Regions from separate parts of the Homo sapiens genome. Here regions 1, 2, 3 and 5 are each linked to region 4. Evidence: fine-mapped expression QTL. A gene starts in region 4. Each other region holds a variant in brackets. All regions are shown on one strand. Distances are between the middles of the regions.

Region 1 (5,130 bases), 83 kb before region 4:
GCAAGGATCAGCAAGACGGGGAACCCCCAGAGGGCAGCTCTCATCTCCCGCTCATCCCTCCCTAGCAGCAGAGCCCAGAGCTGGCTCTCAGGAGCTGTCAGTAAGTGCCCTTTGATTGATGAGTTGGGAAGGCTGAACTCTGCCACACTCCCCTCTCACTCTGGAGGGATGACACACCTGTCATACAGCCTGCACACTTACGTCCCAGCTCACCTGGACACATGTCAGGAGAGCCGGGAGTAATGACAGGGAACTCTTAGGTGGTCACCGTCCAGAACAGGAAGCTCAGAAGAGCCAAGTCTGTGTCACATAGCCATGTCCTAGTGAGTTTAGCTGTATTCGTTCATTCACTCACTCCTTTATTCACTTGTTCAACAGGTGTTTACTGAGGTTCCTGGGCTAGGGGCTGAGGGGGACACAAATGAATATTATTGGTCCTGGCTCTCAAGAAGTTTATAGTCCAGGACAGATGTAGGTCAGGTATACAAGCAATATCAGTATTAGGAAAGCCATGTCAGCAGCCAGGAAAGCTGTGGAGAGGGCCTATAAGGTTCCCAGAAAAGAGAAACCACTGCTGAGGGGGGAGAATAATCATAGCAATAATAATTATAGTAGCCAGCAGACACCTTGCACACATTTATAGGTAATGTTCAGAAGATGGCTTTGCTTGAATCAGGACTTGCAGAGGATTAAAATATTGATGGGCAGAGAGGAGTTGGGGTGTTGGAAGGTGATGCCATTCCAGAAGGAGATTGTCACAGGCAGAGGAAGGACATGAGTGAATGCTCGTAAGTGGGAAGTCGCTGTGTGGGGAATGTTCAGGGGAACCACTCTGAGTCCAATTTGGCTGGCAAATGTAAGCATGGAGGAGAGTAATGGGAAGGTTTGGAGAGAGGGGTGGGCAGGAGCCAGATAACAAAGGGCCCTGAATATCAGAGTAAGGAGTCTGCACTTTCTATAGCAGGCAACGGGGAGCCTTTGAGGGTGTTTGAGCAAGGGAGTGACATGATCAGAGCTGTGCTTTAGGAGAGTTATTCTGGCAGCAGTGTGTAGAACAATTAGAGACAGTAAAACTGAAAGGCAGAGGAGGATGCCTGACCTGGTACCTGATGCGGTACGCACTCAAAAGCAGTTTGTTGGTTGAAATGAAGTGACCTAGAAGAGCCATAATAAGGACCTTCATGGGGGTGGTGGTGACGGTGAGGCAAAGGTGGGTGCAAAAGGCATCAGGAAGTATCTCTGAAATTTGTTAATTGATGGAAGGTAGGGATGAGGACCAGGAAGGAGACAGAGGCTCCAAGAGTTCTGTGAGGGTCAATAGTGAGTGATAGGGCTATTAACAAAATAGGGGAGTCACAAGTTGTTGCTGGTTTTAGGAGAGACTTATGAGCTCGCTTTCCCACAGTTAGCCTTGTACTGCCTGAATTGTGGGCTTAGAGCTCAAGAAAAGCTTGGAAGTAGAGGTAGATGTTTCCATCACCTGCTGAAGGGGCTGGAGTATGAGATCTCCTGAGAGTCTGCAGGGAGGGGACAGCAGAGAGCTGAAGCTGAAGCTGAAGCTTTGCACTCTATCCATACCTGGGGGTGTGTGTGGGAAGCAAAAGAGACAGAGAAGGAGTGTTAGAGCTGAGAGAGGGGTGGGCGGGAGCGAAGGGCGAGGCAGCCAAGGGAGGAGTGAGCTTTAGGGGGTGACGGTATTCCCAAGGGTTCCCACAGGATGGGGCCTGAGAATCAGATGTAGGGTCTGTTGGTCAGGAGGCTGGACAGGAGGCCAGGGCAACCTTGTGCAGGGAACTATGGGTGGAGTTCCTGAGAGCAGGAGACACCCCAGGGCATAACATTCATAGACACTCCATTGCCTGCCCACTGCTCAGACCAGGCCCCAGACTTGCCGTTTCCCCAGAGGCCCTTCTGTCCCTCTCTTAGATGGAGTGGCTGCCAAGCTGGCCTGGACAGGAAAGTGGAGATCAATGAGATGAACTGCTCTCTGTCTTGGGATCACCAAGACCCTGAGATCTCAGCACATCTGGGGGC[T/G]TGTCGAGTTCATCCTATTTATTTGGCTGCAGACCATGCAACCACACCCTTCTCTGATGCAGTCTACACCCGTGTCCAGTCGTCCCCTGGACATGCTTGGCCATCCTTTTCCCTAGTGTCCTTGGTCATACTCCAAGCACTTGGGCTGGTGGTGCCGAGGCCCACAGGATCCCAGGACCCTGGGATAGAGGATGTGGCTGGGAAGCAGGGGAGCAGAGGAGACAGGTCCCAGAACCTTGCTTCCCATTTAGGAGGAGCTAGGCACGGGAGGTGGTGTGGGCCCCCACCCTCCCGGAGGGGACCCGCAGTCCTAAATGCCCCCGCGCCTTCTCCATATTGTGGGAAAAGCTGCCGCATCCATCACTGTCAGGCACCGAGTTTGAATAAATTTGAATGCACTGAGCCGTGGGCTGCAGTTTCTATAATATCACTTTCCAGTTTGAATATTTCACTTACTTTTTTTTTTTTAATTTCTTTTTATCCAACAGTTTCTCCTCCTTTTCATCTACCCCTGCTGCAGCCAAGTTCAGGATATAGAGAGAGGACAGTGCCTTGAGGGTGTCTGAGATGGGAAGAGGCCAGGACTTCACCAGCTTTGGCATCTCTGTCCTCCCACCCACTGGGACCCCTACCCAGCACATGTGCTCCCTGGACCCAGAGCCTGATCTCCCCCAGCTTGTGTAGATGGGGAAACAGCAGCCAGAGAATGAGCCGCCCTCACACTCCACCCCTTCTTCCCTACAGGGGCCTGAGCCCCTCACCTACTGACCCTCCATCACATGGGCGCATACACACATCATCTGATATATTGATTTTTCCCTAGATGTTAACAGTAGATTGCAATTTCCCACTACGAAGTTTGCTCCTAAGTCTCTCCAGCCACTGTCCTGCCTTCCCTTGTAAATAATGACCCCAATTCTAGACCCTTTCCACCACCTCCCTGCAGCTCTCAATCCATCGATGTGGTACCACCAATATAGCCATGTCTTCTGGATGAGGGCTGCTGGGAGGGAGGAAGGACTAGGGTCCTGGTGGCGCACCCTAGAGAACCACCCCCAGGTCCTGACCATGAACCCCATGATTTGTTAGACCTTGCTGGTGCCATCTCCACTCCCTTCCCAGAGCTCAGGGACTAGGGAGAGCCAAGGAGCAAGTCAGGAATGAGACTAACCAGGAACAAACAAGTCGGGATTTCATTTGAAGAGGAGTCCAGGTGGGGATGGGGAGGTAAGGAAGTTCCAAAGGGTCTTCTGGGAACCCTTTGAGTCTGTGAATATCTTTCCTTAGGGAGGTCTGGCCACACTGACCCTTGGACTATCCATAAGGCATGCCTACTACACTGACAATCTCTAGAGGGCAGTGACCCTTCATGAGGCTCCTGGTGACACTGACCATCAGTGAGGACACTCTGCTACATGGGGTACACTGACCAGCCAGCTGACATTGAATACTCCAACTATCTAAAAAGGACCCATGACATTGACCCTATGGGGATCCTTGACCTCTTTGATCTCCTCCAAGGAGACACCAACCGTCTAGGCTATCTCCTATGGAGACACTGTTCATAGAACATGTCCCCTTCCTCCTGCCAGAAACAGCACTCGCTTCGAATACTGACAGTCTCCCACAATGCCTGTATCTACCACATGGAAAAGATGTATGGTAGAAGGTGGGAGGTGGGGGATGAGAGGAAGCGGAGAGCCTTAGTGATCAGGGACCTTCTGGAGGTGATGATGCAGGTCCCTGCTCTGTGCCTGATCCTCTGTGCTCACAGTTAGGCTATGGAAGGGCAAGAGACAATTAGGCTATGGAAGGGCAAGAGACAGGGAGGAAATGGCCAGCCTTTGAGAAACTCATAGTTCAGCTAGAGAGTTGAAATTATCATTAAGAGTAATATTTATGCCAGGCGCAGTGGCTCATGCCTGTAATTCCAGCACTTTGGGAAGCTGAGGCGGGTGGATCACCTGAGATCAAGAGTTCAAGACAAGACTGGTCAACATGGCGAAACCCTGTCTCTACTAAAAATACAAAAATTAGCCTGGCATGGTGGCAGGTGCCTGTAATCCCAGCTACTCAGGAGGCTGAGGCAGGAGAATCACTTGAATCTGGATAGTGGAGGTTGCAGTGAGCTGAGATCACACCACTGCGCTACAGCCTGGGCAACACAGTGAGACTCCATTAAAAAACAGTAATATTTATTTCCACTTTACATTTTGCCATATTCAAAGGAGCTTGAGGGGATTAGGAAATGCACACACGCATGTACACACATATACACACATCACTCAAACAGTGAAAGAAGAAGAGAGAGGACATTTGGAAACCATTTAAAGGCAGGAGGGAGATAAATGGACTAGAGATCTGGTGGGAGAGAGTGTGTCCAGTTAGTGTGGCCCCTGCAGGCTGCGCCCGTGCTGTTACTGGCCCACCTCTCAGAGAGCTCATGCACCGTGGGTTCAGGTAGCTAGGGAAGGCTTTCTGGAGGAGGTGGAACCAGTCTGGGGACTTAACAGATGGCAGAAGTCCTAAACAGGAAAAAACCAACAGGAGCAGCATTCCAGCGGCAGGACCAGAGTGAGCCAAGTCAGAGAAATGAATGGAAGCTGAACGCATAGCCAGTGCCAGGTCAGGGAGGGGCTGGCAATGGGATTGGTGAGTTTGGGGTAGGGTAAGCAGGTGGGAGAGATACAATATATTCAGGGGACAGTGAAGAGATGAGAGAGAAACTGAAGGCCACTGATGGACAGGCTAGGGGTGGTTGATGTGCTGAGAGCACTTAGGAGGTACCTCAGACTAGCTTGGCCCCACCCCAATATTTCCTAATTCTAATTCAGGCCCTTCAGCACCCCTTTCTTGCAGCACCCCCACCCTCTATGAGCTCTAATTCAGCATCCCAGTAAAGACAGAACTCACCAGGGGAGAGAAGCCATACAAAACAGGGGCCCCTGGAAGAGGGGCACCCCTATGAGGGTGGGGGCTGAGCTCTCCTCCCCCCAGGGTGCCCCAGCGGGGCCTGCAGCGGGAGGGAATGTGGTGTGAAGGCAGAGGCTCTCCTGCCGCACCATGACAGATGATTGACTCGAAACAATATCTAAG
Region 2 (5,130 bases), 35 kb after region 4:
TTTGCAGAGGTTTGTGCACTGCAGGAAGGGGAGCTTAAGCTCTTTCCTGTGGCCTTGTGAAACCACACAGGCTCCTGAATAGCAGCAGGTTGGTACAAGCAATAGAGGGATAGTCTAAGGCTTAATTAGAGGAGGGAAAAGAACAGAAGGCTAGCAAACTATTTTAGTAATCTGGGGGTACTGGCACTGGGAATGGGATGGAGGGGACCTGCATGAAAGACAGTGAACAAGAATAGGTAGGACTTTGTCGTTGCTTGGCTATAGGGGGTATGAAGACTTTGCTAATGCTGAGGTATTTAGCCCAGGTGACTGGGAGAATGGTGGTACCAGGACAGGTTAGCAGAAGGTGAGTCTTGTGTGGTGAAGTTTGAAGTGGGTGGTCCTAAGAGTGCAGAAGTGGTTTTGGTAGGGAGACGAATTCAATACTAAATTCCTGATCCTATTCCACCCCCCAGGAACTCTCTTATTTTATTTATTTCCTAGCCTAGGGTCAGCCATTAGATAGCCTTCTCTGTGAATCTGACTTAGTGTTACTTTTTGACTTGAAGGTATAACCTTTACCCTTCTTGCTTTTCCTCACCAGTTTGGAGGGAAGCTGGTTACTTTTGGCCTCCCCAGCACCCCTGCCCATCTGGTGCCACAGCCTTGCCCCCGCCTAGTCTTCATCAGTCAAGTCACCACAGAATCTGAATTCCTGATGCGATCAGCTGAGCTGCAGGAGGCCTTGGGATCAGGAAATCTACTGAATTACTGTCAGAACAAGAGCCAGCAAGCTTTACTGCAAAGTGAAAAGATGCTGTGGCAGTTCCTGAAGGTGGGAAGCCTGAAGGCTAGCTGCTCAGAAGTGTCTCCCCAAAGCCTGGAACTCCAACCTCTGTCAACTGCAGGAGAAGCACAAGCACACTGGGACCCAGATCACAGAGGCCTTAACTCCCATTAGTTTTTCCCCCACACTATACCCACCATCTAGACACAAAACGTTCACCCTTTACCAGAGGCTCAAAGGCCATTTGGGAAGAGGCTAGGAAAGATGGGGAATACACGAGATGTTTTCTTTTGTTGCTACTATGGTTGATGTCCTAGGTATTTTACCAGGGCCAAGGCAAAGACCTTCACGGTATCATGCCAAAGGGCAGATAAGGTAATGGGAAGGAAGAAAAAAGGGAGGAAAGAGAAAAAGAGGAGAAAGGAAAAACATTAGTTAGAAGGACATATTGTCATAAGAAGGCTTTGAGTTGGTTTCAAGTAACCCAAGGCAAGTCCTTGGAGTGGGTCCTAGGGTTCAGGTGCCACTGTACACTGGAGGCATGGGTTCAGTTCCAGTTCTCATTTAATTTCAAGTTTCCTGTGACACCAGGAGGAGTACTATACCTATCAAAGGAAATGAGCAAGTGAGAGATCTGAAGGAAGAAAGGCAAGTAGCTGACTGGTCAGTCAGTGGGATGATTGTGCAAGTTTTTGGAATTGTTTAGAAGAAAGCAAAAAGGATTGGGCCTGTACCAGGGCATCTGAGAGGGACTTGAAATTTGAGCTTTAGGCATAGTAGAGCTTTATGAAGGTGGACATCAGGAAGTTAGAGAAAGAGGATTTGAGAAAGATCTTGACTATACAGTGAAGCCAGAGAATGATGTGGGAAGAAAAGAATAAGAAATGATGCTTTTGTCATAAGCAGGATACAAGTTCCAGGAATGGTGAGATGGTAAAGAGAGGGAGTGGTCAGGAGTTCAGCCTTTACTCCGCTAAACAAAGGAGACAGTGGTACCTATAGGACAGAGGGACCTATAGGACAGGGCATTCTGGGTTTTTTTGTTTTTGTTTTTTTGAGACAGAGTTTCACTCTTGTCGCTCAGGCTGGAGTACAATGGCATGATCTTGGCTTACTGCAACTTCTGCCTCCCGGGTTCAAGCAATTCTCCTGCCTCAGCCTCCTAAATAGCTGGGATTACAGGCACCTGCCACCACGCCTGTATTTTTTTTTAGAGACAGGGTTTTTTTTTTTTTGTATTTTTTGTATTTTTTTTGTAGTAGAGACAGGGTTTCACCATGTTGGCCAGGCTAGTCTCGAACTCCTGAACTCAGGTGATCCACCCACCTCAGCCTCCCAAAGTGCTGGCATTATAGGCGTGAGCCACCGCGCCTGGCCAGGCATTCTGGTTTAAAAGCTACCCAAGAGCTGTCCATCATGATGGTTCCTGGTTGGGTGTGGTGAACATTTCCAAGGGAAGGGCATGGAAGGAGAAGGGTGCCCAGAGAGACTATGAGAAAGGTATGGTTAGAAATCATGTTTCAGTGTGGAATAAATTAAGGGCCTGGGACAGCTAACCAAGATTACGGGGGCTTCAGAAAGGTTTGCTCCTTGGTATTTGGGACATTGAGTGGGAAGCTGACTTTGTTTACTGTACCTGTGCAACTTCTACCAGAGGTCTTCTCAAAGAAACATTTAGACTCACAAGGCTGGGTGCGGTGGCTCACGCCTGTAATCCCAGCAATTTGGGAGGCTGAGGTGGGTGGATCACCTGGGGTCAGGAGTTCGAGACCAGCCTGGCCAACATGGTGAAACCCTGTCTCTACTAAAAATACAAAAAATTAGCCGGGCGTGGTTGAGGGCGCCTGTAATTCCAGCTACTTAGGAGGCTGAGACAGGAGAATCACTTGAACCCTGAGGGTGGAGGTTGCAGTGAGCCGACATGGCGCCACTGTACTCCAGCCTGGTTGAGACAGCAAGAGTCTGTCTAAAAAAAAAAAAGAAAAGAAACATTTAGACTCACAAGACTACTGTAGGCTACACTTGGCAGCAGTCTCCTCGGAAGGATATGGGATAGGGACCACAGCAGGGTAGCATCAGGCAGGTGTCTTCTGTGGGAGCCCTTTCAGCAGTCATGCAGTAATTCAGAGTTCTCTTCTTCAGCCCGCCAGAGACAGCTCAGGTGCAAGGAGATGAGACTATACATCAGGCAGGTATGTAAGTTGCCCTGACTTAGAAGCTTCTTGCCCACAAGAGCCAATATCTCTTGTACCAATTCTAAAAGCATAGCTTCCGGAGTCCCTGCAAGGAATCTGTCCAGTTACAAGAGCCACTGCAAACAGGGAAATGCATAGCATGTTGTTCACATTAATT[A/C]TTTCTAGGTTACATAGTTCCAGTCCAGATGCAAGTTACCAATCACAAGCATATTGCCTAGGAACAGCTGACATTTTACTCTCACCAGACTACCAGGGTAACAGAGCTAGGAAGTCAATGAAAGGTCAAATTCTCATGTGCAAAGGGCAGGGGGCTATGTTAACACTGCTGATAGCCCATCAGTAAGTCAGATCCAGGGAGGAAAAAGAGATGGCATTGGACTGCTGAGGGCACTTCTAGTAGTACAAAGAACTATATTGGGTATACTGGCACAGATACCCAGCTTGTTGTAGGAAGAGCGTCATTTATGTTCATTTAATGGAATCTTTTCTGTGTTCTGTGGTTTCTTAGGTGACCTTAGAGCAAGACTCCAGAATGAAATTCCTAAAGCTTTTAGGATACAGTAAAGATGAGCTTCAGAAGAAGGTAAGCTGCTTTTCACATCAGAAACATGTACTTGTTGAAGAGAAGAAGAGAATGTTGCCAGAGTAAACCACCTCAGAATACCTCTTCCTGGCCTTATTATTGCATATGTGAGCATTTTACATCCTGGAGTTTGTTTTTTTCTCAGAAAAAAATAGATCAGGGATCTTAGAGAGTACAGTTGGTGGGGTATGGAGATAGGAAAAGAGGATAATGCTTATTTGATCTTACGCTTGAAAGAGCGGTTTTCAGAGGTCTCTCCCTGCAGGTGGCCACATGGTTGAAGAGTGACGTGGGGCTAGGTGAGAGTCCTCAGCCCAAGGGAAATGACCTCAACAGTGACAGACAACAGGCCTTCTGCAGCCAGGTGTGGTAGGAGTCCAGTCAGCCTGACCTATGGTAACACAGGAAACCTGCCTTTTGGGCATCTTTCCCTTCCTGGCCCTTTTCTTTGCTGTCTGTAAGTGTTTAGCGTCTGTAGAAGTCTTCAGACTCCTCACTCTCTTAGAACCAGAGTGAGACACAGAGTCCCTAAGCTTTTGGGCTGGGAGTGGAGAGCTGTGTCTTAACCATGAACTATGGCCCTCCCCAAACCTTACCTGGCTATTTTTTTAGTTTTACCCATTAACGGCCAAATAGTAGAGCTCTCAGGGCTACTAAGCCAGCTCTCTGTCTGTCTTGGGTTCATCCCTAAGTAGTCACCTCTGTCCTTCCTCATACAGGCCTCCAAACACACCACAAAGGAAGCCTCTGCTTCCTCAGCCTTCTTTGATGAGCTGGTCCCTCAGAACATGACTCCTTGGGAGATCCCCATCACAAAAGGTACCCTGACCCTGAGGGAGAGGGAGAGTCTCTGCTTAGGACTAGGTGGGCACGGAGGTTTTGGACTTGAGACATTCCCTTCTTGTCCCCTGCCTCGTGCCTTCCTCCCACCGTCTCAAATGCTGAGTGAGTCGCTTACCAGTTAGAGCTCTCTCTGGTTGTAGATTTTCATGGATACGTCCTTCCTATGGAAGGCCTTCTACCAACAGATTTTCTTCTATCCTTCTTGCTGAAAGGACTGTGGCCCTGCCCACTGTGATCAAGCACACCTCACACTGTGCTACTGCCACATCAGTTCCCTCCCTTGTCTTGGGCCCTGTCTTTAGACCTGGGCACCAAAATACATTTTATTGCCAAGGAGTGAAACTTGAGGATTTAGTTTGGAGCCAAGCACACTGAGTGATATAGAGATATAGAGGGTGTGCTGTGGGCCCTGCAGGGGGCAGGAAGTTGGGGTTTGAGAGCAACTAATGCACAGGGGATGCTTCTGCCTGCAGATATTGATGGACTCCTAAGCCAGGCTCTCCTGCTTGGGGAACTGGGTCCGGCCGTGGAGCTGTGTCTGAAGGAGGAGCGCTTTGCTGATGCCATTATCCTGGCCCAGGCTGGGGGTACAGATCTGCTGAAGCAAACACAGGAGCGCTACTTGGCCAAGAAGAAAACCAAAATCTCCTCGGTAACTGCCCATCATGCAGGAGAAGAAGGGAGGGGATTACTTGGACCTTGTGAGGTGGATACCCACACCTTGGGACCCATGTTTGAGTATC
Region 3 (5,000 bases), 59 kb after region 4:
TATTTTACATGTTGATCTTGTTAAATCCTTACTGTCTCAGGCATTATTATCTCTATTTTGCAGACAGGAAATCTGAGACTCCAGAAAAGTTAAACGTGTGTTCAGGCTCACCCAGCTAATAAGTGAGTGAAGCAGGATTTGAATCCACATTCATCTGACTCCGTGGGACGTTAGAAGGATACTTCTCTAATTAGGAAGAGGTAAACAAACAGTGGAATATCTCTCTAGGGATTGAGTCATAATAAAACTCTAAAAATAAGTAATGCGATTTGGAAAAATGGTTTGGCTGCCCCTTTTAAAACTAAAAATGGGCTGGGCACAGTGGCTCACGCCCATAATCCCAGCACTTTGGGAGGCTGAGGCAGGTGGATCACCTGAATCCAGGAGTTCAAGACCAGCCTAGGCATCATCATGGCAAAACCCCGTCTCTACTAAAAAAAAAAAAAAAAAATAGCTAGGCATGGTGGTATGCGCCTGTAATGCCAGCTACTCAGGTGGCTGAGGCACAAGAATCGCTTGAACCTGGGAGGCAGAGGCTGCAATGAGCTGAGATTGCACCACTGCACTCCAGCCTGAGCAACAGAGTGATATTCTGTCCCAAAAAAAAAACAAAAAAAAACTAAAAATGAACTTGTCATATGACTTAGCAATTGCACTCTTGGGCATTTATCCCAGAGAAATAAAGACTTACTTTCACTCAGAAATTTGTACCTGGATGCTCATAGCCACTTTATTAATAATAGTCAAAAATTGGAAACTACCCAATGTCCTTCAAAGGGTAGTTTAAAAAACTGTGGCCGGGTGCGGTGGCTCACGCCTGTAATCCTAGCACTTTGGGAGGCCAAGGCAGGCAGATCATGAGGTCAGGAGATCGAGACCATCCTGGCTAACATGGTGAAACCCTGTCTCTACTAAAAATACAAAAAATTAGCCAGGCGTGGTGGTGGGCACTTGTAGTTCCAGCTACTCAGGAGGCTAAGGCAGGAGAATGGCGTGAACCTGGGAATGGAGCTTGCAGTGAGCCAAGATCGCGCCACTGCACTCCAGCCTGGGTAACAGACCGAGACTCCAACTCAAAAATAAAATAAAATAAATAAATAAATGAATAAAAAATAAAAAACTGTGGTACATTCATACCATGGAATATTACTCAGCAATAAAAAGGAATGATACGTTGATACATGCAACAACTTGGATGAACCTCAAGGAAGTTACGGAGTGATTAAAGTCAGTCTCAGAAGGATACATACTGCATGATTCTATTTACATAACAATAGTGAAATAATAAAAATTATATAATTATAGAGCTGGAGGACAGATCAGTGGTTGCCAAGGATTTGGGATGGGGGATGGATGTGGCTGTAAAGAGTAACATGAGAAAGTCTTGGGGGAATGGCCAAATGTCTTTACTGTGGTTATACAAGGCTACACATGACAAAATTGCATAAAGCCACATACATGAGTACATGTACACACAAGTGCATGTAAAAATGGTGAAGTCTGAATAAGCTTCATGGATATCGTACTAACGTTGTAAGATGTTCACACTGGGGGAGGTTGGGGCAAGTGTACATGGGACTTCCCTGTACGTTTCTTCCCTGTACATGTCTTGCAACTCCATAATTATCTAAAAATAAAAAGTTAAATATATATGTACATATACACATGATCTGCAGGGCTAAAGACTTGGAGAATGACTTCAGTATAGGCATTTGAAAATCAGAATCTATTATCTATTATCTTTGTTTTTCCATTATAATGTGAGAAAGTAATACGGGAATCATTATGTATTGTTCCATGCTGGTGTACCCCTGCAATTCTGAAGGCCAATAAGATGCTGAACATCACCAGAAAGGGGATTGGAAATGAAATAGACCAAGAAAGTTTCTTGTCAGGCCAAAAGAGCTTGGCTGACTTTCTTCATAAAAAACACATACAACACCAAAAATGTGAGTAGTTTTTGAAAACCAGTATTAACAAACTAAGAGGCTGCCATATGAGATGAAAAAGATTCTAAACGAGTTGTAATAGAATTTTAGAAAATCAAAAATACTATGAAGTCTATCAAAACTAAGGCCTATTTTTTTTTTTAGACGGAGTCTCACTCTGTCACCCAAGCTAGAGTGGTGCCATCTCGGCTTACTGCAACCTCTGCCTCCCAGGTTCACACCATTCTCCTGCCTCAGCCTCCCGAGTAGCTGGGACTACAGGCACCTGCCACCATGCCCAGCTAATTTTTTTTTGATTTTTTTTTTTTTGTATTTTTAGTAGAGATGGGGTTTCACTGTGTTTGCCAGGATGGTCTCGATCTCCTGACCTCGTGATCTGCCCTCCTCGGCCTCCCAAAGTGCTGGGATTACAGGCGTGAGCCACCGCGCCCAGCCACCAAGGCCTACTTTTTAAAGCTTGGTAGGCAACCTTAATTCAACTGAAAAGAAGCACTGCTTGATCAGGTGTAGTAGCACCAGCAAAACACAAAAATACAATTCAGAATGACTTAAATGAATTCACAATTTCCAAAGCCATTATAGGTTTGGACATGAATTTCTGATCCTTAAAGACATGTCAGAGGAGTCAGCCAGGCCCCTTTGCTTTGGGGAAAGGGGCCTGAGCTTGTTCCCACTCAGAAAGGCACTTTTTATGTTAGGAATAACATTCAAAGATTTTGGACATTACCAAGCCTGACAGAGCTAGTTCCCATTTTCCATAAGACAGAAATTATCAGGAAAGAAAACAAAACAACAAAGCAAATTGAGTGACAAAGAAAATGCTTTGCCATAGCTGGGGTGAAGAGTCTTCCTGTGAAAGGAGTCTAAGCCGGAACTACAGGGAGTAATAGACAGAGATTCTAGAGAATTCTTTCCTGGAAGATCCTACAATATGCAAAGATTTGT[A/G]TGATATCCAGGTCAAGCCCAACTGATCAATGAATGAGACTTAATTGAGCACCTGTCATGGAACAACACTATAGGCCTTATTTGGACAACATTCCTATAAAGTGACTTGTGTTTTTGTTTTTTTTGTTGTTTGTTTTGTTTTGTTTTTGGAGACAGAGTCTCACTGTATCTTGCTCAGGCTTGAGTACAGTGGTGTGATGTCGGCTCACTGCAGACTCCACCTCCCGGGACTTGTGTTTTTCTGTTTGTTTGTTTTTTGAGACGGAGTCTTGCTCTGTCTTGCCCAGATTGGAGTGCAGTGGCATGATCTCGGCTCACTGCAGCCTCCGCCTCCCGAGTTCAAGCAATTCTCCTGTCTCAGCCTCCTGAGTAGCTGGGATTACAGGCGTGTGCCACCACACCCAGCTAATTTTGTAATTTTTGTAGAGATGGGGTTTCACCATGTTGGCCAGGCTGGTCTCGAACTCCCAATCTCAGGTGATCCGCCCACCTTGACATCCCAAAGTGCTGGGATTACAGGCGTGAGCCACCACGCCCAGCCAACTTGTGTTGTTAACCTCCGAGTTATTTGCAGACATATTTGAACCTTATGGCTAGCTTGTTCATATCCAAAATATCCTATATTAAGAAAAGACTCAGCTGGGTGCAGTGGCTCACGCCTGTAATCCCAGCACTTTGGGAGGCCAAGGCAGGCAGATCTTGAGGTCAGGAGTTTGAGACCAGCCTGACCAAAATGGTGAAACCCCGTCTCTACTAAAAATACAAAAATTAGCTGGGCGTGGTGATGCACCCCTGTAATCCCAGCTACTCAGGAGGCTGAGGCAGGAGAATCACTTGAACCCTGGAGGTGGAGTTTACAGTGAGCCAAGATCGTGCCACTGCACTCCAGCCTGGGCGACAGAGCGAGACTCTGTCTCAAAAAAAAAAGAAGACTGTCCTGTAGTGAGTACCAAAGGAGGAGGATCTTGTTCTTGGTCAATGAAACAATGACATGATTTCCTTTTGGGGGTAAAATATAGATTGCAGAAAACATAGTGAGTATTGTGAGAAGATGCAAAGAGAACCAAAAAGGAAGGAATTTAAGTGTTTGTATGGGTGCCACCTCTATGTGGCAGTTATGTGATTGAAGGAAAGATGCTAACAAACACTGAAGATGTAAATTTAAGATATAAATTTTGTTTAACAAATGGAGGCTGCTATATAGACAGAACATGGTAAAACAGTATACTCCCAGATGGAGGTACAAGCTTCCCATTTCCCATGAGGTTGTACAGTTGCTGACAATATTACCCAGATTCAGGACCATTCAAAGGGTTCATGACTTCCTGAACCCTCCCAGCTCTTCTCAGACATTTGCTTGAACTCTAGACTTGCATATCCAACTGTATTCTTGGCATCTCTCCTTCAGTGTTTAATACGCATCTCAAACTTAACGTGTCCAAAACTGAACTCCTGATCCTCGCTGCCATCACCCAAGCCTACCCCTTCTGTAGTCTTCTCCATCTAAGTAAAGGACTGTTCCTCCTAGTTGCTCAGACAAAAATCATGAAGAGTCACCTTTTTTTTTGTTTTTTAAGACAGAATCTTGCTCTGTTGCACAGGCTAGAGTGCAGTGGCGCCATCTTGGCTCATTACAACCTCCACCTCCTGGGTTCAAGCAATTCTTGTGCCTCAGCCTCCCAAGAAGCTGCGATTACAGGCATGCACTACCATGTCCAGCTAATGTTTGTATTTTTAGTAGAGATGGGGTTTGGCCACGTTGGCCAGGCTGGTCTCAAACTCCTGACCTCAAGCAATCCGCCTGCCTCAGCCTCCCAAAGTGCAAGATTACAGGCATGAGCCACCATGTCCAACCCATAATAGAATATTTTTTGACCATATAAAGGAATGAAGTACTGGATACAAGCTACAACATGGATGACCCTTGAAAATATCATCCTGAGTGAAAGAAGCCAGACACAAAAGGCCATAAATGATATGATTCTATCTATATCAAATGTCCAGCATAGGCAATCTCATGGAAACTGACTAGATTCACAGTTTCCAGGGACTGAGGGGAGGAGGAACGGGGAGTGAATGCTAATAAATAAAGGGTTTCTTTTTGAA
Region 4 (5,118 bases):
TGTTAAGAAGAAGAAAAAAAGATATTTCAAATCCATTCACTTAGCCACAGACTGCTGATAAGGAGTCAGGAACAGGAGTGAGTGAAGCAAGAGACTAGAGAGAAACCCAGGGTTGGACACCAAATGCGAGAGGGTAATTCACCGTGAAGTACTGAGCGAAAGCAATTCCCCAGAGGCAGTGTTATAGTGTGGGACTGAATACTGTCTCGGACCTACATAAGAGGCTGTCCTCATAAGCAGGAATAAAAGCAGAGAGGAAGAATCACTGTCTTGTGTGTCTTGTGTTGCTGTTGTGATAGGAAAAACAAATTTAATCTGATCTTCCCTAAGCTAGAGAATCCTAACCTTCTTTACTGCAGAATCACAACAAACTATACAACTTTTCAGGTTGAACTATCCTCAGTCATCACAATACTTAAGGACAATGGCTACAAACAGGCATTTTCAGAGCTAAATCCAGTGACAAACATTTTTGTTTGGCCCCCTGCAACTTTTTTTCTTTAAATCTGATTTAGTTGCTCCATTTAAAGTCAAAAGATTTTAAATAAAAATCCTGATTTTGAACTTCTCTTGAAAATCGGAATATCTCCCAACCCTAGAACTGCACTCCAAAACTGAAGCAAGCAGAGTCAAGTAATGACCTCTCACCATGGTTTTTTGTTTTAGTTTTTAATTTTGCAGAGACTAGCTCTCACCACGTTTCCCAGGCTGGTCTTGAACTCCTGGACTCAAGCAATCCTCCCACCTCGGCCTCCCAAAGTGCTGGGATTACAGGCATGAGCCACCCCCGCCGGCCTTGGCTTCTCACTTTGAACAAGGCTTATGCCTTCAGCCTCATCACTGATTTCACACAGACGATATTACTCCTTCCATTCACCTGCCTGACCCTTCTAGGCAACTAACTCTTTATGAGGAAGAAGATGGGAACCCAGAGATTCATAGCTCAAGTTTAATCATTCCCTCATCCCTCAAGCTACAGAACTAGCTGGCTGTAGCACCAAGAACCACTAAGAACTCAAACCCCTTAAAGGCTGGAAGACCAGACTACTCCTTCAACTGGAATCCAGAGATGGGAGAGGCCAATCTCTAATTGACCCAATTCTGCCACACCTTCAAACAAGTATAGGAAAGAAAAATGAGTGTCCTAAATCCAACAGAAAATTAAGCTTTCGGAATTTACCTCTCTTCCCCTCCTCGCTGCTGTATATCCTGCAGTTTCTCAACGAACTCATGAAATTTCATTTCTTCCCTGTTGGACCTCGGCTTAAAGTTCTGGAAATTGGCCATCTTCTTCTCATCATAGTACAAGAACTTGTGGGTGCTGGCACTGTACACAGAGAAGTCTCCATTGCCAATATTCTCTTGCAGGTATTCAAGGTCCCATTTCAGGGCAGGATACACAAGATTTGTGTCGGTCAGCACCACAGGCTCCTAAATGAAAACAACAGGTGAAAAACACCAAATGAAGTAATGCCAAGGAGCCGGTGGGTTGGCCTCCATGATCCCAACTACTTCTCAACTTCAGAATAATTTCTCCTGTTAATCAGCACGAACCCCTAAGTTCCGTATCTCCTCGCCTTTCTCTCCATCTTCCCATAGGCCCTAGTCTAGAGCCCTGCCAGTCTCCCATCTCTTTCACCATTCACCTCTGACCTCTCAACCGGGTACCTTCCTCCTCTCCCTTTAGACGCGGCCCCGCCCCCCACCTCATTCTCAATAAGCTCCTCTGCCCGGGGGTCGCTCTGACTCAGACGCGGAATGGGCCTAGTCGGGAAGCTATAACTGCGCAACTGGGATTCATCCCAGGCGGGGCCGAGGGCTCCAGCCTCCTCCCGGGGCTCTCCAGAGCCAGAGGCCACAGCCTCCGCCGCTGTCGCCGCCATCTCCGCCGCCAGGGACGGCCCCCACCGGAACCGGAAGCTCCGCCTATTCCGGACCCCAAAAAAAAAAAAACAAAAAAACCACACACCCAACGGAAACCATAGAGATGAGCTGCGAGAGAGAGCGGTCCAGAGACATAAAGAACGCGGAGCCGAGGCCTGAGGGTGCGCCTCCTAATGGTAGTATGCAGCTCTACATCCTAGGCTCCACTGCTGAAGAAATGGGGCTAGACACTAGTCCCACGGAATAGGGACGACCTGGTAGAGCAAAACACAAAAAAAGTTGCCCCATGTGCCCGAGTCTACACAAGAGTCAAAGAAGGAAGCAAGTTCAGTTAGGCATTAAACTTTACACTCATGAATGGGGAGAAAAGCAAACTCTTGACCCACCTAAAGAAGTCAGAAGGAAAAGCAGTGATCACATTGGTAGATGTAGAGCAAAGGCTGACTGAAGGCTTAGGCAAAAGATATACAGCAAGTTGAATTCTTTCAAAATCAAAGACAGTTTTCTTTTGTTTAGCATCATTTGATTTTTCTGCCTATATCACCATGTCTCCTACTTGAATATATGTTTGCCGTGAATCGAATGTTATTAGAGGCCAACCATGGACATCTCACATTTTCAAACAATCTATACTGATTATAAAAGGCCATATTAATACCTCTATTGCTTACTTGGACAGTTCTTATGGCTGGCTGTGAGAGGCCCAATTCTAAGATGTATCCCAAGATTTGTACCCTACGGTGTACACATCCTGTATACATTTCTCCCCTTAAAAGAAAACACGACTGTGAATATGATAGAGCATCACTCCTGTAATTAGGTTAGCTTATATGACAAGGATGTAATTAAAGTCCCTAATCAATTAACTTTAAGGCAGTCAAAAAGAGGTGATTTATCCTGGTGGGCTTCATCTTATCACTCTAGCCCTTTAAATCAGGGCTAGAGGTCAGAGACAGAATCTAAGAGATTTGAAGCCACAGCACAGCTGTCCTGTTCACCTTGAAGGAGCAAACTGCCATATGGCAGGAAATGGCAGGTGGACTCTAGGAGCTGAGAAAGGCTCCTGGGTGACAGCCAACAAGAAAGTGGGCACCTTAATCCTACAAATGCAAGTAACTGAATTCTGGCAACAACCACTGAACTTGGGAAAGGACACACACGGAGCCTCAGATGAGATCGCTAACCCAGCCAACACCTTGATTTCAGCCTGATAAGACCCTGAGCTGAGGACTCAGCCAACCAGTACCTGGACTCATGGAATATGTGAGAAAATAAATTGGTGTTTTGGGCTGCTAAATTTACAGTAATTTGTTATGCAGTAATAGAAATGAATGCACTGGCTTAACTATGTAATTATGCTACATAGTAACCATGCTACACCAAACCGATAATAGGGCTACCTCTGTGGAAGTGTTTGAGGCTGCAGGGGGCAATCAAGGCTTTCATTTTATCTGCAGTGTTTGAATTTTTTTTTTTTTTTTGAGCTAGGGTCTCACTCTGTCACCCAGGCTGGAGTGCAGTGATGCAATCTTGGTTCACTGCAACCTCCACCTCCCCAGCTCAAGCAATCCTCCTACCATAGCCTCCCAAGTAGCTGGGACTAAAGGCACACACCACCATGCCGGACTAATTTTTTTTCCTTCTGTAGAGAAAGGGTTTTGCCATGTTGCTCAGGCTGAATGTTTGAATTTTTACAAGAATGTATTAATTCATAACCTTGGGAATTAAAAATAAATTAGGCCAGGCATGGTGGCACATGCCTGTAATCCCAGGACTTTTCAAGGCTGAGGCAGGAGGATTACTTGAGCCTGGGTGTTCCAGATCAGCCTGGGCAACATAGCAAGACCTCATCTCTACAAAAAATTTTAAAAATTAGCTCGGTGCGTTGATGCATGCCTGTAGTCCCAGCTACTAGGGAGGCTGAGGTAGGAGGATTGTTTGAGCCTGGGAGGTGCAGGCTGCAATGAGCCATGATCATGCCACTGCACTCCAGCCTGGATGACAGAGCAAGATCCTGTCTTACTAAAAATAAATAAATTAATTAAGATCAAGAAGATTAAAAGAACTAAAATCAGTAATGAAACAGGGATATTACTGCTGACTTTACCCCCCAAAAAAAGCATATAAGGACATACTGTAAACAATTGTATGTCAAAAAATTACAGAACCTAGATGAAATGGACAGATTCCTAGAAAGGCACAAGCTATAATAGCTGATTCAAGAAGAAATGGAAAATCTGAATAGACCTGTAACAAGAGATTGAATTAGGAATCAAAAACATCCCATAAAGAAAAGCCCAGAAACTGGGCATGGTGGCTTACATCTGTAATCCCTACACTTTGGGAGGCAGAGGCAAGCGAATCACTTGAGCCCAGAAGGTCGCGACCAGACTGGGCAACATGGAGAAACCCCATCTCTACCAAATCCCCCCAGCCAAAAAAAAAAAAAAAAAAAAATTAGCAGGCATGGTGGCACGCCTGTAGTTCCAGCTATTCGGGAAGCTGAAGTGGGAGGATCACTTGAGCCCGGAATGTGGAGGTTGCAGTCAACTGAGATTGCACCACTGCACTCCAGCCTTTTGAGACAGAGCTAGGCCTTGTCTCAAAAGAAAAGAAAAGGCTGGGCACAGTGGCTCATGCCTGTAATCTCAGAACTTTGGGAGGCCGAGGTCGGGGGGACCACCTGAGGTCAGGAGTTCGAGACTAGCCTGGCCAACATGGTAAAACCCCCATCGCTATCAAAAATACAAAAATTAGCCAGGCATGGTGGTGCACGCCTGTAGTCCCAGCTACTTGGGAGGCTGAGGCAGGAGAATCGCTTGAATCCCGGAGGCGGAGGTTGCAGTGAGCTGAGATCGTGCCACTGACTCCAGCCTGGGCAACAGAGCAAGATTCCATCTCAGGAAAAAAAAAAAAGAAAAAGAAAAAGAAAAGCTCAAGACCAGATAGATTTACTGATGAATCCTACCAAACATTTTTTAAAAAATTAACACTGGTCTGGGTGCAGTGGCTCATGTCTGGAATCCCAGCACTTTGGGAGGCCACGGCGGGTGAATCACGAGGTCAGGAGACCGAGACCATCCTGGCTAAAACGGTAAAACCCTGTCGCTACTAAAAATACAAAAAAATTAGCCGGGCATGGTGGCGGGTACCTGTAGTCCCAGCTACTCAGGAGGCTGAGGCAGGAGAATGGCGTGAACCTGGGAGGCGGAGCTTGCAGTGAGCCGAGATTGC
Region 5 (5,130 bases), 39 kb before region 4:
AGAGGTCGAATTAGAACTTGGGCAGTCTGGCTCCAGAGTCTGTTATCTAGGTGTGGGAGGGCCTCATCTGTGAAATGGGATCACCTCCTCTGTAAATGGGAATAATAATAGTGCCTGCCTCTTAGGGTTGTTGTAAGAACGAAGTGAGATTGTATAGGTCAGGCTGGCATGTGATAAGTCCTCAGTGAAGATCCACTACTGTAATTTACTATACCCTGCACATAGTAGGTTATAAGGAAACTTGTTGATGTTGAGGAGGAGGAGGATGAAGGGCAGGGCAGGGGAGGAAGGAAGATGCCACTGTCTAGGCAGGTAATGAAGAAGGTTGAGGGAACAGGTTGGGGCCATGACCCAAAGGACACTCCAGGGCTTGCTTGGACACACTGGGGCCCAGGGGAGTGTGGAACTCAGAATATGAAAGAGTCTTGGGGGTGAGCTGTCCACGAGCCCGGAGGAGCCTCGAACTCTGACCAGGGCAGGGTGGAAAGCACAAGACATGGCCATGAACTTGTTGGTACTGATGTCAACCTTGGTTGCCGGCAGGTCAGTATGCATGCATAAAAGGGCGTGTTTGGTGCCTGTGGGTCTGAGTTGGAGCCTCTTGTAGGGGCATCAAGGAAGACTTCTTGGAACAGGTGACTTCTAAACGTGGCTTTAAAAGCTGTATTAATATAATGTGAATGGTGGTGAAGCAGGAAACTGCTGGCTGTCAGGGAAGGTGGCCAGTCTTGAAGGTCTTGTGGGGGGTGGGAGTAGTGGAATTGGAAGGGGTGAGTTGGGCCCATATGGTGCAGAGCTTGGAATGCCACACTGAACCATCTTTGCCAGTGGGGCACTTGCTTGGAATAATGCTTCAGAAAGAATAGCTAGGCAACAGGAGATGGGGGGGCAAAGATGAGGAGGGAAGCCATAACAGCCAGGAGGAATATATCCTGGGGTCACCCTTTGCCTGCATGCTTGTGAAGTCATCTCCTACATTCCCCTGGTCCCCTGACAGATTGATTATCCTGGGTGAAAGGAGAAGGGGACCATCAAAGAGTCATCGGTCCCTCGGGGTTTCGTGTTCTCGGAAAGCACGTAACTCTCATCATCTTGCTGCAGTGTAAGTGGGACCTGGAGATGGACAGTGCAGGGAGAATGCTGATGGCATGGAGAGAGGGCGGAGTTAGAGGAGGAAAGCAAGCCCAAATACATGGCGTACAGTGCCTATCCTATGAATATTTCTTGATCATTTGACTAAGAGAAAGACAGAAACACCCAAAGAGAGATACATACAAAGGGAAGAAGAAAAAGAGAAGATTCCTCCAGAAGAGGAATGTGTCTTATTTCTCATTTGTCTCCCATGGCACCAGCCAGTGCCTTGTACAGAGTAAAAGCTTGATATTTATTTGTTGAATTGAGAGACTCAGAGATTCATAAAGTGGCCAACAACTGAGATGAACACAAAAACGGGGAGAGCCAAGTTTTTTTGTGGGGGGTTGGTGGTCCTCCCTGCCCTTGCGGCCATCTGTTTGCCATCATTTCCATGCCCCATAACAAAAATGCAAGTCCCGGCCGGCGCAGTGGCTCATGCTTATAATCCCAGCACTTTGGGAGGCCAAAGCGGGTGGATCACCTGAGGTCAGGAGTTCCAGACCATCCTGGCCAATATGGTGAAATCCTGTCTCTACTAAAAATACAAAAATTAGCTGGGTGCAGTGGCAGGTGCCTGTAGTCCCAGCTACTCGGGAGGCTGAAGCAGGAGAATCACTTGAACCCAGGAGACAGAGGTTGCAGTAAGCCAAGATCGCGCCACTGCACTCCAGCCTGGCAACAGAATGAGGCTCCATCGCAAAAAAAAAGCAAGTCCAAAGGCTGGACTCAAGCCTGAAAAGTGAACAGGTCTCAAAAATGACTTACTTCAGAGGTATAACCCCAGGTCCTTGGAATCCTGGCAGGAAGGAAGAGGGGGTGGTCAGGAAAAGAACCCTAGGCCAGGACTAAGTTGATGGATTTGGGGGAAAGACTGCTTGAGCTCGCCGGGCATGGGGTAGGGGGTGGAAGGAGGTACTCTGCCTTCCCATGGTTCCCAGCCTCTCCCCTCATCATCCCAAACCCAGGCCCTGCTCAGAGGCAGCCTGTGACACACAAGTAAATGCCTTACTATGGGAGGCAGAGCTGAGCCATGCGTATGGGGACTCTTAGAGACAGAAGCAGGTAGATGGGGGAGGAGGAGGCAGAGAGGGAGGGTAGGGGAGAGGGAAAAGGAAAATAGAGGGGAAGAGGGAGAGAAGGGGGCAGAGAGAGGGGAGAGGGAGGAAGGGACAGAGACAGAGACAGAATGTTTTTCCCAAACTAGAAAATCACATAGTCAATACAAACAAGTATGTAACAGGTGCTAAACATAAACATCAGGGGCTCAGAGTCTGATGATCTTTCCAACTGTCAGCTCCTCAGTTTACCTGTTTATCTCTCTGATTAATGTGGCCCCATGGCATCACCAGCACCTAGATTCCTTTCACATCTCTTCTCTGTCATCCTTGGCATGTCAGCTTTTGAACTCAGGCTGAACCTCAGGGTGTCAAAAAGGCTGGAGCAACCCAACACATTACATCTTCACATAGCAAAGCGAGAATCCAGAAGGAGGAAAGGGGCACATCCCTTCCATCTATCCTTTTTTAAGACTGCAGTAAAATTTCCCAAAAGCTTCGTAATAGACTACCTCCCACATATCGATGGTCAGAATTGTATCATAGGCCAGGCATGCTGGCTCACATCTGTAATCCCAGCACTTTGGGAGGCCGAGGCAGGTGGATCACCTGAGGTCGGGAGTTCAAGACCAGCCTGACCAACATGGAGAAACCGTGTTTCTACTAAAAATACAAAATTAGCTGGGTGTGGTGGTGCATGCCTGTAATCCCAGCTACTCAGGAGGCTGAGGCAGGAGAATCACTTGAACCCGGGAGGCAGAGGTTGCGGTAAGCCAAGATCACACCATTGCACTACAGCCTGAGCAACGAGAGCAAAA[C/G]TTTGTATAAAAAAAAAAAAGTTGTATCATATGTCCATTCCCAAATCATCCATCCAAGATGAATGGAGTTACCATGATTTTCCTAGAACAATTAAGAGTCACCTGTTGGACAAGTGAAGTGTTTAACTTTCTCCAAAGCATTGGACTTCAAACCCACGAAAGTGGGTTCCTTAACAAAGAACGATGGAATGTGGGGCCTGGCTGTGGGGTAGGCCATCAGCAGAGCTGGCTCCATTCTGTGTCCTGAGCTACGCATCCATCTTCTCTGTGCAACCAGCTGTCCATCTGTCTGTCTATTGATTTGTCTGCCTGTCTGTTGGTCTATCTCTCAGTCACTCCTCAGGACTGTCTGCCTGCCTGCCTATTCATGTCAGTCTGTGTGTCTATCTGTACATCTATTTATCTATGTCTCTATTTGTCTTTTGGTCTATCTAGAAATAAATATATCCACCAGTTGGTGTCTTTCGTCAGTATGCCTATCTGTCGCTATCTATCCATCTTGAGTTTCCGTCTACTACTGCCCTTCTCTCCCTTACCTGTCCCATGTTTAACAAGTGGACAGGTCTTTTGTTTCCTTCCCCCTCCCCATGCCCGCCACACAGAATGGTCTGAAATAACTCATGAAACTCATTACCTTAGACAGAGCACAGACCACAGGGCCCCTCATAGCAACAGCGATGGCAGCAAGTTGGCCAGAGTTACTATGTCTCACCTTCCCAGGCCCCACCCAGAGGCTGAGCTGCCACGGTCTCTACCAGTGATCAGGCCCTCCTATACCTGAGATCCCTGAGGGTTTCTATTCATTCATTCATGCTTGGATAAATATTGATTGAGTACTATGTGCCGAGCCCTTTGTTAAGTGATGGGGATACGGAAGTGAATAGGACAAGCATGATCCCCCCCATGCGTGTGCACACACAAGTCCTCAAATATACATTTGCAGACATACACTGCCGCGTCAGGTACTGCCAGCCTCTGCAAACAATTGTTGATCCTAGTATGTGGATGGCACTTAAGCCAGCGTCGTTCAAAAGCACATCTTACACACACAAAAACACACACATACACACAGTGTTTAGTGCCCTGAGGCCCCCATAGGAGGGCACAGGATTCCTTATTTCTGTTCCCACATCTACTCTTTTTTTTGGGGGAGGGGGAGGGAGTCTCACTCTGTCACCCAGGCTGGAGTGCAGTGGCACGATCTCTGCTCACTGCAACCTCTGCCTCCCAGGTTCAAGTGATCCTCCTGCCTCAGCCTCCCGAGTAGCTGGAACTACAAGCACATGCCACCATGCCCAGCTAATTGTTGTATTTTTAGTAGAGACGGGGTTTCACCATGTCGGCCAGGCTGGTCTCAAACTCTTGACCTTGTGATCCACCCACCTCGGCCTCCCAAAGTGCTGGGACTACAGGCGTGAGCCACTGCACCTGACCTTTTTTTTTTTTTTTTTTCTGAGACAGAGTTTCGCTCTTGTCACCCAGGCTGGAGGGCAGTGGCACGATCTTGGCTCACTGCAACCTCCACCTCCTGGGTTCAAGCAATTCTCCTGCCTCAGCCTCCTGAGTAGTTGGAATTACAGGCCCCCGCCACCACGCCCAGCTAATTTTTGTATTTTTAGTAGAGACGGGGTTTCACCATGTTGGCAAGGCTGGTCTCACACTCCTGGTCTCAGGTGATCCGCCCTCCTTGGCCTCCCAAAGTGCTGGGATTACAGGTGTGAGCCACTGCACCCAGCCCCACGTCTTCTCGACTCCCTGCATGACCTTGAGTAATCATTTCTTGACCATACAGTGTTCCCTTGTACAAAATGGGGCACACCTGGCCCAGGGATCAACCTCCTGACTCATTCCCCCGGACTACTCAATTCACATTCCTTTACAGCATAGAAGTTGCTTCCAAACTGTCTCTCACCGTGAACATGTCTCTCTCCTTCCTCCTATCTCTGACCACCTGCCTCCTTCATGTCTCCAGAGGTTCTCCTCTGACAGTGCTCCTGGTTCTCTTTCCCTTTGGAGTATCTGGGAATGGGTCTCTGTCTTTGTATGGTGTTTCAGTGTGAATATTGAGTGGCATAAGGGTAGAGTGCTTGAGTTCGTGTCTGAGTATACGTTTGAGCTGCTGT

Direction of the effects. Positions count from the first base shown, and alleles are read on the strand shown. Sizes are in standard deviations (SD) of each study's normalised expression. Not every link is listed here.
For the expression in transverse colon of the gene that starts at base 1,899 in region 4, allele C in region 2 goes with a higher level than allele A (small effect, 0.19 SD a copy in GTEx).
As copies of C replace G in region 5, the expression in fibroblasts of the gene that starts at base 1,899 in region 4 goes up (small effect, 0.25 SD a copy in GTEx).

The links. PIP is the estimated chance that this variant, and not a neighbour inherited with it, causes the effect. A credible set is the group of variants that fine-mapping cannot tell apart.
Region 1: its variant is the best candidate, but not a certain one, in a credible set for the expression of HIF1AN in whole blood (TOPMed, PIP 0.59).
Region 2: its variant is the best candidate, but not a certain one, in a credible set for the expression of HIF1AN in transverse colon (GTEx, PIP 0.64).
Region 3: its variant is the best candidate, but not a certain one, in a credible set for the expression of HIF1AN in whole blood (INTERVAL, PIP 0.69).
Region 5: its variant is the best candidate, but not a certain one, in a credible set for the expression of HIF1AN in fibroblasts (GTEx, PIP 0.86).

The regions. Positions count from the first base shown.
Region 1 is chr10:100,615,539-100,620,668 of GRCh38, reverse strand. No RefSeq gene overlaps it. Among named protein-coding and RNA genes, the nearest start is that of HIF1AN, 82 kb to the right of the region's middle. The variant T/G (reference allele first, on the strand shown) is at 2,035.
Region 2 is chr10:100,497,938-100,503,067 of GRCh38, reverse strand. SEC31B (SEC31 homolog B, COPII component) reads left to right here. Exons shown (of 26, transcript NM_015490.4): 11 at 584-814; 12 at 3,470-3,544; 13 at 3,810-3,908; 14 at 4,264-4,363; 15 at 4,861-5,039. Among named protein-coding and RNA genes, the nearest start is that of SEC31B, 19 kb to the left of the region's middle. The variant A/C (reference allele first, on the strand shown) is at 3,119.
Region 3 is chr10:100,473,394-100,478,393 of GRCh38, reverse strand. All of the region lies in intron 1 of WNT8B (Wnt family member 8B), which reads right to left. Among named protein-coding and RNA genes, the nearest start is that of WNT8B, 13 kb to the right of the region's middle. The variant A/G (reference allele first, on the strand shown) is at 2,895.
Region 4 is chr10:100,532,724-100,537,841 of GRCh38, reverse strand. HIF1AN (hypoxia inducible factor 1 subunit alpha inhibitor) reads right to left here and starts at 1,899. Exons shown (of 8, transcript NM_017902.3): 1 at 1,707-1,899; 2 at 1,181-1,431. The coding sequence starts at 1,883. RefSeq lists enhancers at 1,920-1,979, 2,050-2,139.
Region 5 is chr10:100,571,756-100,576,885 of GRCh38, reverse strand. No RefSeq gene overlaps it. Among named protein-coding and RNA genes, the nearest start is that of HIF1AN, 38 kb to the right of the region's middle. The variant C/G (reference allele first, on the strand shown) is at 3,008.